3 linked regions of the Homo sapiens genome follow. The protein of the gene in region 1 interacts with the protein of each later gene in a biochemical or structural test. Each region holds a gene or a part of one and is shown on either strand. Other genes may lie near its edges.

What was found. Proteins that work in one complex are often made in the same cells at the same time.
Region 2: the proteins of FGFR1 (region 1) and FGF17 interact in a test that uses a peptide from one of them, tested with the Homo sapiens proteins (one study listed by BioGRID).
Region 3: the proteins of FGFR1 (region 1) and FGF10 interact in a test that uses a peptide from one of them, tested with the Homo sapiens proteins (one study listed by BioGRID).

What each region holds. Positions count from the first base shown.
Region 1 is NC_000008.11:38,415,531-38,420,876, reverse strand, and holds part of FGFR1 (fibroblast growth factor receptor 1 isoform 1 precursor), read left to right. Parts: intron 1-1,141; coding exon 1,142-1,344; intron 1,345-2,503; coding exon 2,504-2,649; intron 2,650-2,885; coding exon 2,886-3,007; intron 3,008-3,460; coding exon 3,461-3,571; intron 3,572-4,816; coding exon 4,817-5,007; intron 5,008-5,346. UniProt on the Homo sapiens protein: Tyrosine-protein kinase that acts as a cell-surface receptor for fibroblast growth factors and plays an essential role in the regulation of embryonic development, cell proliferation, differentiation and migration.
Region 2 is NC_000008.11:22,045,820-22,049,309, reverse strand, and holds the end of FGF17 (fibroblast growth factor 17 isoform 1 precursor), read right to left. Parts: exon of another isoform or gene 3,338-3,490; coding exon of another isoform or gene 3,197-3,337; coding exon 3,019-3,196; intron 2,784-3,018; coding exon 2,677-2,783; intron 1,355-2,676; coding exon 1,061-1,354; 3' UTR 501-1,060; downstream 1-500. UniProt on the Homo sapiens protein: Plays an important role in the regulation of embryonic development and as signaling molecule in the induction and patterning of the embryonic brain. Required for normal brain development.
Region 3 is NC_000005.10:44,312,921-44,316,420, reverse strand, and holds part of FGF10 (fibroblast growth factor 10 precursor), read left to right. Parts: intron 1-3,500. UniProt on the Homo sapiens protein: Plays an important role in the regulation of embryonic development, cell proliferation and cell differentiation. Required for normal branching morphogenesis. May play a role in wound healing.

The DNA.
Region 1 (5,346 bases):
AACAGCAACACTTCTCCCTGTCATCAGCTCTGCTGTCTCCTTGTCAGGCCTTGGGACGTTCTCTGGGCTCAGTCTAGGGTCGTGCCTCATGCCTCATGCCTCTCTGGGAAGGTTCCCAGGGGCGCCGCCTCCATGGTTGGCTGGTGGGTTTTAAAGGGGAAGGTTGGGAGGAGGCCTGTGGAAGGAGGAGGGCCGTCCACACCCGTGGGGCAAAGCGTGTTCCATGAAACCAGTGCTGTGCGTGCTGGGATGAAAGCCTCCCAGCCTCTCGTGCTGAAGGGAAAGGTGGACCGAACTGGCTTAGCTGCTGTGGCAATGGGGTGGGGGGTGAGTCCTAATCAGAAGGTGGGAGAAGAGAATAACAAAATGGAACTCCGCCCCCTGCCGCCACATTTCCTTAAGTTTTAGGAGTTGGGGCCTATGAGTAGAATTTGAAAGAACTACCAAAAAAGCTTATTTTTGGAAATTAAGTCAGCTTTGCCTGTGGTTTGGCTAGGAATAAATATTTACCTGTGTGCCCCTACAGAGATGACACAGACCCAAAGTGGGACATTGAGCAAGGCACAGGCTGGTTCCCCTCCTGTCCTCTGTCCTCATTCTGTGAGTGCCACCATCACCAGGTACTGTGGCCTGCAGAAATAAACGAGGCACCAACCCTGCCCTCAGGGACCCCGTGTCTTCTTAGGGACAGAGGACTCAGAAACATCTGTGTCCCCGCATGTTAAGTGCATGCACACAGTGCTGAGGCTTTGCAGAGAAGGGCCATGGCTCCCTGAGGAGACCAAGAAAGGCACATAGAAGTGACTTCTCAGCTGGCCCTTGCAGGATCCCTGGGTGCCTGTACCTCTCCAGTCCAGCTGAGCAAGGAGGCTCAGGAATTAATGAAGATGGGGCTTGTGTAGCACGATGGTTCTAGGCCATCCCTTTTCCATGGCTCAAGTCCATTGAAGGCAGCCTCCAAAATCAGGGGGTTGCCTGATCCTCCTAGTGCCACAATCCCAGTCCTAGCTAGAACTTGCCATGGTTCTTCTCCCTAAAAGTTCCCAGGGGACAGGAGACAGGTGTTGCTTTTCTAATGGAGCGGGACCTCGCATGGACGGGGCCCTCCAAGCCTGCTAACACCCTGTTCGCACTGACTCAGCCCTGGAAGAGAGGCCGGCAGTGATGACCTCGCCCCTGTACCTGGAGATCATCATCTATTGCACAGGGGCCTTCCTCATCTCCTGCATGGTGGGGTCGGTCATCGTCTACAAGATGAAGAGTGGTACCAAGAAGAGTGACTTCCACAGCCAGATGGCTGTGCACAAGCTGGCCAAGAGCATCCCTCTGCGCAGACAGGTAACAGAAAGTAGATGGGGGATTTGCACACTCAGCACCACCTCTCTCTCTGGGCCTCTAATGCCCTGCCCTCTCCATTGTCCCTAATTTATAGCTTTGGGCCTTATTTTCTGGCTTCTGGGCAAGGCACAGTGGAATATCATGAACTAAGTGCTCTAGAGTCTGTTTCAAGCTAGTGTAGCCCGTGAATTTCCTGCACCCTCCATATCACACTGCAAGTCCTCCGGACTCCTGGGACATGGATTGGGAGGAAGTCCTATTTGGACAGAATGTGCAGCCAATAGCATGAATTTGAACTGTCCCCAAGGGCTGCTTAGAAGTGCAGAGATGCAGGGTAGAGAAGAGAACTGTTTGTATTAGTCCATTTTCACACTGCTGAGAAAGACATACCCAAGACCGGGCAATTTACAAAAGAAAGAGGTTTAATGGACTCACAGTTCCACGTGGCTGGGGAGGCCTCACAATTGCAGAAGGCAAAAGGCACGTCTCACATGGCGGCAGACGAGAAGAGAGCTTGTACAGGGAAACTCCCCTTTATAAAATCATCAGATCTCGTGAGATTTATTCACTATCACAAGAACAGCACAGGGAAGACCTGCCCCCATGAGTCAATGACCTCCTACCAGGTCCCTCCCATAACACGTGGGAATTCAAGATGAGATTTGGGTGGGGACACAGCCAAACCATCTCAGCCATACCATACCCTTGTCCCCTGTGTGCCCACCCTTCCCCACGGGAGGAAATGGTACAGATGGCACAGGTGTGTGCAAGAATGACCGTTCCCTCAGAAGCCTGTGCTCATTCTGGAAGGTGCTTTGGGAGTTAGGAATCCATAAGCTAAGGCAAAGTATTTGCAAAGAGTCAGGAGAACAGAGTTGTTACTGCAATGATCAGTTATAAAATGTCAAGCTGGAAGAGGTGCATTTGGTCTGCTTATTTTAAAGGTGAGTGAAGTCCAGAAAGGCCAGCTTGTGGCAGAAATAGGTCAGTCCTAGAAGTTGGGCCTCCTGGCCTACCATGGTCTTTGGACCACTCTGTGTTGAGGAAAGAACATCAGATACACAGACATGTGCCTCTGCCATTGTTGGGAAGCCCTGACTAAGAATGGGAAGGAGTCACCCCGTCCCCCCTCCTTGCTCTAGGGTGACCCCACTCTTCCTTGCAGGTGTCTGCTGACTCCAGTGCATCCATGAACTCTGGGGTTCTTCTGGTTCGGCCATCACGGCTCTCCTCCAGTGGGACTCCCATGCTAGCAGGGGTCTCTGAGTATGAGCTTCCCGAAGACCCTCGCTGGGAGCTGCCTCGGGACAGGTAATAATACTTTGACTCCCAACTTTTTGAAGGCATTCCTTGCTTGCTATTCTAGTGGTGGAAGGTGTGTATACTAACACCTTCTGGGCGGTGAAGGTTCATGAAATGCCTGCAGAAACATTCATTCCACTTTCTGCTCGCAGTTGGGTGAAATACAGAGAGGTGGAGATGGGGTGCCTCTCAAGGTTTGAACTTCACCAGCCCCAACTTATGCCACTCTCTGTTTCCCCCGAAAGACTGGTCTTAGGCAAACCCCTGGGAGAGGGCTGCTTTGGGCAGGTGGTGTTGGCAGAGGCTATCGGGCTGGACAAGGACAAACCCAACCGTGTGACCAAAGTGGCTGTGAAGATGTTGAAGTGTAAGTGATGCTTCTGTCCTTGCAAAGAAAATCTTGTCCCATTCCAAGCAAACAGCAGGCCTCGGGCCCAGCAGAACAGCTTCTCTGGTGCCTTTGCTGCCCACACCTGCTCCGCTGCCTGCTTGGGGTTACCTGGGAGTGGAGGGGGTGTTCTGCACCTTGAGATTGTTCTATGACGTCACTCTGTTCCTTGGCGTCAACCTGGGCTGTGGTCAGGTGTTTATCCTGGATCCATCGCTTGCAGGCTTTCCTCACCACATCCCTGCCCACTCACTACCACCTATTGCAACAACGGCTCCCATGAGAGGGAAGAGAAAACAAGTTTGGATGAAGTGGGGAGGAGAGAATCAAGTCCCAGGGAAAAGCAGCCCCTCGACACATACCCCACTCCCTTAGCCTTTATCCTGCCCTCCTCCCTTCCCAAGTAAATGAGTCTCAACGTGTTCTTTAAAGCGGACGCAACAGAGAAAGACTTGTCAGACCTGATCTCAGAAATGGAGATGATGAAGATGATCGGGAAGCATAAGAATATCATCAACCTGCTGGGGGCCTGCACGCAGGATGGTGGGTGCCGGCCAGACTGGCTTTCCCTGCCCAGCGGGGAGAAGATCTGAGCTGGGGTATCAGTCCCAAGGCCTCTCTCAGCCACAGCTAGGGAAGGGGGTTAAGAGAGGCTGCTTTGGCAGAGGTTTAAAATGTGTTATCTCGGGATCTGGGCTCCGCTCATTGGTGTTCATTCAGGAATACAGATACCTAGATTCACACACGTGGTGTGTTAACAGAGGCAGCTGAGTAATTATGGTCTAAGAGCGCTCAGGCTGGGTGCAGTGGCTCATGCCTGTAATCCCAGCAATTTGGGAGGCCGAGGCAGGAAGATCACTTGAGATCAGGAGTTCGAGACCAGTCTGGTCAAAATGGTGAAACCCCATCTCTACTAAAAAATACAAAAGTTAGCCAGGCATGGTCACGCATGCCTATAATCCCAGCTACTCAGGAGGCTGACGCATAAGACTTGCTTGAACCCGGGAGGTGGAGGTTGCAGTGAGCCAAGATCACGCCATTGTACTCCAGCTTGGGAGATACTCCCGCTGTCTCAAAAATAAAATAAATAAATAGGCCAGGCACAGTGGCTCACGCCTGTAATCCCAGCACCTTGGGAGGGTGAGGCGGGTGGATCACTTGAGGTCAGGAGTTGGAGACCAGCCTGGCCAACAGGTGAAACCCCATCTCTACTAAAAATACAAAAAGTAGCCGGGCGTGGTGGCGCATGCCTGTAATTCCAGCTACTCGGGAGGCTGTGGCAGGAGAATCGTTTGAACACGGGAGGCGGAGGTTGCGGTTAGCCGAGATCGCGCCATTGCACTCCAGCTTGGGCAACGAGCAAAACTCCATCTCAAAAAAAAAAAAAAAAAAAAAAAAAATTAGCCAGGCATTGTTCATGCCTGTAATCCCAGCTGCTTGGGAGGCTGAGGCAGGAGAATCACTTGAATCCAGAAGGCAGAGGTTGCAGTGAGCCGAAATTGCGCCACTGCACTCCAGCCTGGGCAACAGAGTGAGACTCCATCTCAAAATAAACAGACAAACTGGGGCTCTTACCCCAATGTTGCTCGGGAATTTTCTGGACTATGCTGGGAGTAATTATTTCTCTGATTTTTTTTGGGTAGTAGAATGGATTTCCCAGGTCCCCTAAGAGGAGGCAGGAGATGGGAGGTTGGCCGGGGTGTGCTGCTGGGGGTGGGGTTTCTTTGAGGTGAAGCCAAACCTGCTCACCTGCTGCTGGCCCCATGGCCTCTTCTCCTGTGCCTGCAGGTCCCTTGTATGTCATCGTGGAGTATGCCTCCAAGGGCAACCTGCGGGAGTACCTGCAGGCCCGGAGGCCCCCAGGGCTGGAATACTGCTACAACCCCAGCCACAACCCAGAGGAGCAGCTCTCCTCCAAGGACCTGGTGTCCTGCGCCTACCAGGTGGCCCGAGGCATGGAGTATCTGGCCTCCAAGAAGGTGTGGAACCTGAAGGCTCCCCTGGGTAATGCCAGGGTGGGAACAGAGCCCCCCTAGTCTTCCAGCCTGTGACTTATCATCTTGTGGTGGCGTTGTGGATGCACTGAGCACTGGCCCTGTGTGCCCTGTGTGTTGTCTTAGGCTCTCTGGGAACTGCAGAGTCAGGAGCACCAGTGTAGCCAGGTGGCCTTGGGGTCAGACTGATGCAGGGTCCGATCTGTGCACTGCCACTTTCTGCGTAGCCTCAGGCAGCTACTTAGCATCTTAAAATTCTTCAAATACAAAATAATAATAATATCAGCTGGGTGCAGTGGCCAAGGCGGGAGGATTGCTTGAGCT
Region 2 (3,490 bases), about 16 Mb from region 1:
GGGACCCGGGAGGACAGGGGACGCCTTCTCGCCCCCTCCCCCCTTCCGGCCGCCCAACCCCGCTTCCCGCCCCCGCCCTCCTCACCGGAAAAAAAGCAATCTCGCTGCCCGAGGAGGCTCCTGGCGTCCGCGGGCCGCCCGGGCTCCGCCGGGCTCCGCAGGGCCCTCGCCTGCGCCTCGGGCCTGGGGCCTGGGGCCCGGGGCCCGGCTGGATGCACGTCCCGGCCCCGGCCCCGGCCCCTCCGGGGGCTCGGGTTTTCTTCCCCAACAGGTAGCACGGGCCGCGCCGCGCGAGCCCAGGAAACCCGAGCCCGCGCCAGGGAGGGGCCGCCCGGCCTGGACGCGCCCGCCTCCCGCGGGGCCGAGCCCGCGGCCTCCTGGGGGCCCCAGCGCTGCGGGCCGCGCCTGCACCTGCCGTGGCCACGCCCGGCCGGGGACGGGCAGGCTCGTTTCCAGGGGTGTTCGGTGGTCGGATCCCCCGCCCCGCTTCAGATAACCCATTTGCAGGAAAATGGTTTTATTCCGGGGCTGGGAGTTGGGGGTGGGGTGCAGGCCTGGGTCGTGGAATGTGAGGAGTGGACAACCCTCTATTTTCCTCTCTCTCCCTTTCTTTTTTCCTGAAACAAACAAACAAACAAAAGTCCCTTCCTACAGTCTAGCCAGGAGGAGTTTGGGGGCTGGGGGCAGACTGAGGGAGATCCGAGAAGCAGATTTTGAGGACAGCCACCTCCAGACGGTTGTCTGCAAGGCCTTCAGTCGCTGACCTTTCAGCGGGCTTCAGGAGCCCGGCTGGGAGGCCGGCAGAGGCTGGTGGCCTGAGATCAGGGTGACACTCAGTTCCTCTCCAGGGCCTGCCACCCGTCCGGGAAGGGGGCACTGTGCCAGCCGCCCCTGGGGCACCGGCCTGCCCCTTCCCAGCTGGGGGCTCGGATGCTTCGCGGCCCTCAGGGTCCTCCCTCGGGGATCTGGCTCCCCTCCCGCCACCCCAGCCCAGTCCTTGGATTAAGAAGGGAAAGGGGTGGGGAGGCGGCCCAGGGGCTGCTGCCCCCTGCCTCCCAGACTACGTGAGGGGCTGGGGCCGCCGTGTGCGCTTGGTCCGGCGGGTGGGGGCGGAGCCCACAAACTCGAACTGCTTCTGCTTCTCGGCGTGGTTGGGGAAGGGCAGCTGGCCTTGGTAGAGGCGCTTGATGAAGTGGGCCTCGCGCTGGTTCTGGCGGCTGCGGGAAGCCTGGCGGGGCCGCCCCTGCCGCGTGAAGGCCATGAACCAGCCCTCGTGCCGGGCGTTCTGGAAGGCCGTATAGTTGTTCTCCAGCACGATCTCCGTGAACACGCAGTCTTTGCTCTTCCCGCTGGGCTGCGGGAGAAGCAAGGACAGGAAGGGCATTTGTCCACCTACCCTGGTCTGGGGTGTCGCCCTTACGGCCTATTTTGGACGACTGAGGAGGGACAACGGGAACAACGGGGCCGTGAGCCCAGGGAACTCTGCCTGGTGAGATGGCATCCTATTTAGAGAGGCAACAGTGGCCAACAAGAACACGCTTTGTGGATCTGAGTTGCAGGCTTGTCGTTTAGCGGTCCTGAACCAGGCTGGGCCTCAGCTTCCTGAGATGTAGGTGAAGATCAAGGACCTGCGGCATTTCCCAGCATGCACGGGCCCTTAGCACTGAAATGCTCATGCAGCCTAGGTGAGGGGTGCTGCTGGGCATGGGAGAGGAGGCAGCAGCCTCCAATGAGAAGAAAGAAGGGTGCCAGTGCAGCCACCCATCCCACTCTGTCTGCAATCAGGGGTCTGTGCCCATTTCTACAGACAAGAAGCCTGAGGCTTGACAAAGATAAGCAAACCAAAGGTTATTTGGTCAGCGACAGCCGAATGGGAAGCTGGGATTGCCTGGTTTCAAACGAAGTGGAATTCTCCCACCCAGCAGGGCCCGGCCTACCGTGTGCTTTGGTCACAGGGGCAGCTGCTTAGTGTCTATCTTGCTAGCTGGAGCCCACTGGCCCCACTGAACTTGGGGGAGTTCCTGTCTTACATCTGTGCCCCACTTTCCACCCTCAACAGCTCTTAGTCCTCCACCCAGAGGCTGCAGTGTCAGGTAGATGCTAAGCTCTTACTGATGCCTGCTGGAGAAATACTCCTGACATCAGCCCCACAGATCCCAGTGGCTTGCCAGTCCCCTCAGAGGGCTAATAGAGTCCCGGGGACTCATTTAAATAGAGAAACCAGGCCGGGCTCCGTGGCTCACGCCTGTAATCCCAGCACTTTGGGAGGCTGAGGTGGGAGGATCGCTTTAGCCCGTGAGTTTGAGACCAGCCAGGGCAACATAGTGAGGCCCTATCTCTACAAAAAAAAAAAAAAAAATTAGCTGGGCATGGTGGCATGCACCTATAGTGCCAGCTACTACTTCAGAGGCTGAGGCGAGAGGATTGCTTGAGCCCAGGAGTACAAAGCTGCAGTGGGCTATGATTGTGCCACTGCACTCCAGCCTAGGTAGCAGAGCAAGACCCGGACTCTAAAATAAAAACCAGAGAGTGGCCCAGTGGGTGGGCTGAGAGTAGGATGGGAAGTCTTTACACAGGAGGGTGTGTGGCTCAGAGGAGAGAGGGGAGCATGATGCCCTATATGTCCCCACCCCAGTAGGGCTGATTCTCTGTTACTTCCCAGTCTCCCAGCCTCACCTTCCCGATGAGCTTGCCCCTCTTGTTCATACAGATGTACTTCTCACTCTCAGCCCCTTTGATGCGAACCCGGCTGCCAAACGTGTCCGTCTCCACTATGAGCTTGGCTGTGGTGGGGGAGGGGAGAAAGACCTCCGTCCATCGGGGCTGCCGGCCTATGGCTACAGCAGGGGACCACCCAGCCACACTGACCTCCAGACTCAGGCGAAGGGGTTGGGGACACTCAGGCCCTTGGGGCCCTCAGCCCTGACACAGGATCTGGGGATGGACCAGGAGGTGAGGCAGGGTGGAAGTGAGGCAGAGTGGAGGTGTGGGTGCCCTGGGGGGAGGGCCAACTCTCACCAAACTTGTTGCCGTCCTCGGCGGTGGCGGAGATGCGACGCCCGGTGACCTGCACGTGCTTGCCACTGGTCCTGCTGTAGAGTTGGTACTCGCGGATCTGCCGCCTGCTCAGCTGGTCGGTCATGGCGCCCTGGTCCCTCACGTACTGGTTAAAATTAGGAGACGGGTGATTCTCCCCCTTTGCGGTTACCAAGGGAAAAATAGTGTCAATTTGCTTTGGGTGACACCACCACTGGTCCATCCAAGGGAGAGGGGTGAGGAGGTGAATATAGTGGGGACAGGCCACTTGTCCTGCAGAGTGAAGTGGGCATATGGCCATAGCCTTCCCAGGCCCCTGGGTGAGCCGGTCATAACCTCTTTGCTTTGCGTCTACCTTACAGAAGGGACTGGGGTCTGCCCAGGCTGGGGGACACTTATTGACAGAGCACAGCCCTGGAATCAGGACTCTGGGAGCTGGAAGGAGCCCTCAGGG
Region 3 (3,500 bases), on another chromosome or scaffold:
CATATTTGAGAACTATTGGTATAGAAGGTTGGTTAACTTGCCACTATTCTGATTGAGCACACAGTAAATATATATTTAGCACCCACTCTCTGAGATTCTTTGCAACCCTATGAGCTATAGGCCAGCGGTCCCCAACCTTTTTGGCAGCAGAGACTGGTTTCGTGGAAGACAATTTTTTACACGAAAGGGAATGAGGAGATGGTTTGTAGATGAAACTGTTCCACCCCAGATTATCAGGTATTAGTTAGATTCTCATATGGAGTGTGCAACCTAGATCCCTTCCTTGCATTGTTCACAGTAGGGTTCGCACTCCTGTGAGAATCTAATGCTGCCACTGATCTGATAAGAGGCAGTGCTCAGGCAGTAATGCTAGTGATGGAGAGTGGCTAAATACAGTTGAAACCTCGCTCTCGCTTGCCTATGGCTTGCCTCCCGCTGTGTGGCCCAGTTCCAATATTGGTCCATGGGACATTACAGTTCCCATAATGTTTTGAGGCTTCACTTCATTTAACTTTGTTTCATTTTTAAAGAGAGGTAAAACCACATTTAGAGCCATTTAGACTCACACTATGGTATGGCCACATAATCCCAGAGGTATTAGTGAAAATGTGATAACAACCCCAAGGAGCTCCCTAAGTCCTTCTGTGCTAGGATATAATAGATGAACTTAGGACACTGACAACAATTCTTGGGAGAGAGAGGTTTCATTTAGAGAGGTTAGTATTTGTGTCTTACATTGTGCTAACTATGATATGTTTCAGCACCTTGATTAAAACTATAAAACTATATAGCATTATAATCAATTTCAAGTTAAAATGTTTAGAGAAAAATAGATGTGACTGATTCTGAATTAATGAGACTTTCCACGTTTCACAATAATTTTTTTTTGGAAAGTACATTCCTCACCCAGAAAAGCACCACTACCACTCAATGAAGCAGAACCTTTAGTTTTAGCTAGTGGCCACCTCAAAGTGCCATTGGGGGAGGTGGGGAGAAATGTGGCTCAAGCACTTGAGCTCTTTCTCTCTCCAAGCCTGTTTTTATGCATGCACTTTCTCTCCCTGGAATGTTCCTTCTCAACTTCCCAAATCCCCCCTATTAAAACCCTGCTCTTGAAAAGTCACCTCAAACACCAGCTGTCTTCTTCAGGATGGCTTCACTATTTAAAGTAATGTATAACATATTTTATCTCTCATACCACACTTAATATATTTTCTTTCTGGTTTTTTTTTTTTTTTGTATTGTCATTACTTATTTGGGTCTTTATTTTATTGAGCTTTAAAACTCCTTGAGGCAAGGACCACATCTTGTTTGCCTTTGTAACCTTCAGAATGAGAGCTAACACCTACCCTGCACACTGGTGCTTAATACACATTAGCTGAATTAATTTACTCAGTCTATAGAATTCCATTGTATATTTATGTTCTATTTATCTAGGAGTGGATAGAAGGATTTTGCACTTATTTTTCACATCTAGTTTTCCTTGTCTATATCCATTCTATTAAATACAAGTTTTATTTGCCATATACTTTCTCCTTTTGTGTTTATGGAAAAATATTTAGTGAGAAACTTACCCTCCAGACCAATAGCTTTTTCATTCTAATAGCACCAAAACAGAAGAAGCCTTTGTCCAACATGATTGCTAGGGGGACAATAGGTCAGATGCTCCTCTTCTGGAGAAGAATGAGAAGCAGCAGCTGGGAAAGATGCTTGTGAATGGCCACCTTCTCAGATTAACTATTTAGTCACTCATCAAAACATTACCAGCCCAAACAATTATATATATGAGTATTAAAAGAAAAAAATGCATTTACACGAAAATTGTGACTTCTAAGTTATTTCCACTCAGAGATTATCAAGTCACAAAATTTTCTCCATTACTAAGGTGATGATGCATCATGAGGGAACATTCGCAAAGTAATATGAACTGATTTTTGTCATAATCGCTTTTGTAATGTTGACTATCAAACTTTATTTTTTAAGATTTTAAATATAATCTAAAATAAGCTTTATAGATTGCTACTATTTACTGAAGAAATTTGCTAAATATTACTTTATTTCTAATGTATTCTTTAAACAATTTTATATTTGTAGACAAAATCCTTCCTAGTTGCCAAAATTCTTAGAATCTGCACAAGATGTTTACTAAACTGAGTCTCATTATCTCCCAACTTCACTTTTCCCAGCTTCCTGACTTGTTCCTTGTACTCCAGTTGGTAAATCAAACCTCTTATGATATTTGAAAACACCATACTGTTTTACCTTAATAATTTGCTCTTGCCTTCCCACCCTTCCCAGCCTTCCCCTGGACACTTCTTAACCTTCATGACTCAGTTCAGGTCTCATCTCCAACAATAATTTGATCGTGGAACCCCAGCCAGTATGACCTGCCTTTACCTTTGCCCCATAGTCCCCTTGTCATCATCTTAAGTCATCACTTACTGCCATGTAACATGTTTTATTGTAATTATCTGTGTTTGTCTTTTATTCCCAATAGTACATAGACTTATCAATAGAAAAGCCATTACGTATTTGACTTTATATTTTCATTTTCTAAAAGCGTACCCTTCTCCTCCTAGGTCTTCCTAAGTGATTGAACTAAATTGTCCAAAGACCCTTAAATAGATTCACAATACTACCTGGGCTATTCATGTTTTAAGGGACATAAAAACTAATATAGTTACAACTTAATATAAATAATAGAATTTCACTACAAGAATATGCCTATAAATTTACAAAATATCTGTTTTACATGAATGGGAAATATAATTCATGTGTCCTTTCATTAATAATATAATTTTCAGGTGTTTCTTTGAGTTAAAAAAAAAAAAACCTTTTTTTATAGCTTTTAATGTTAAGGTAATTGTAGAGTCATAAACTTGTAAGAAACACGGGGAGATCCAGTATGCCCTTAACTCACTTTCCTCCAGGAGGCTCTTTTAACTGGCATTTAGTTTTGATTCAAAATATACACATATAGAACTATAAGCTACTGATCCAACAATCCTCAAACAAAATTCTGGAGCTCCTTTCCAAAAATAATTTGATAGGCAAACTTGATCATCCTCACCAAAGAACAGAAAAACTGGAGTGATTCCTTACAAAAAGTAAAGAAGTCCTCTAGGCTTCAGTCCTTCAGAACTCCCCTTTCACATTCACAGATGTTTATAATAGGTGCAGTCATTGTCCATTACTCACAAGATGATCAAATTATAACTTACCTGACCATACGCTGCGTCCCAAAATTATTTTCAAAATTCGAAAGGATATTAAATCACCTATGTCTTCCCTCTATTTTGAAACAATAACTAAATAATAATATAAAAATAATAGCTAAACCTTTTTAAGCTTGCCTAAACTAGTTGCAAAGTGGAAAAAAAATGGTTGATTGAGTCTTTGAATATTGTGCTCCCATTTCAGGTAAAGCAGAAAGAAACAAAGGGGTATCTAAGCTAAATATAATCTACAATACCACTTGCAGTTCATCCTCAGAAATAACG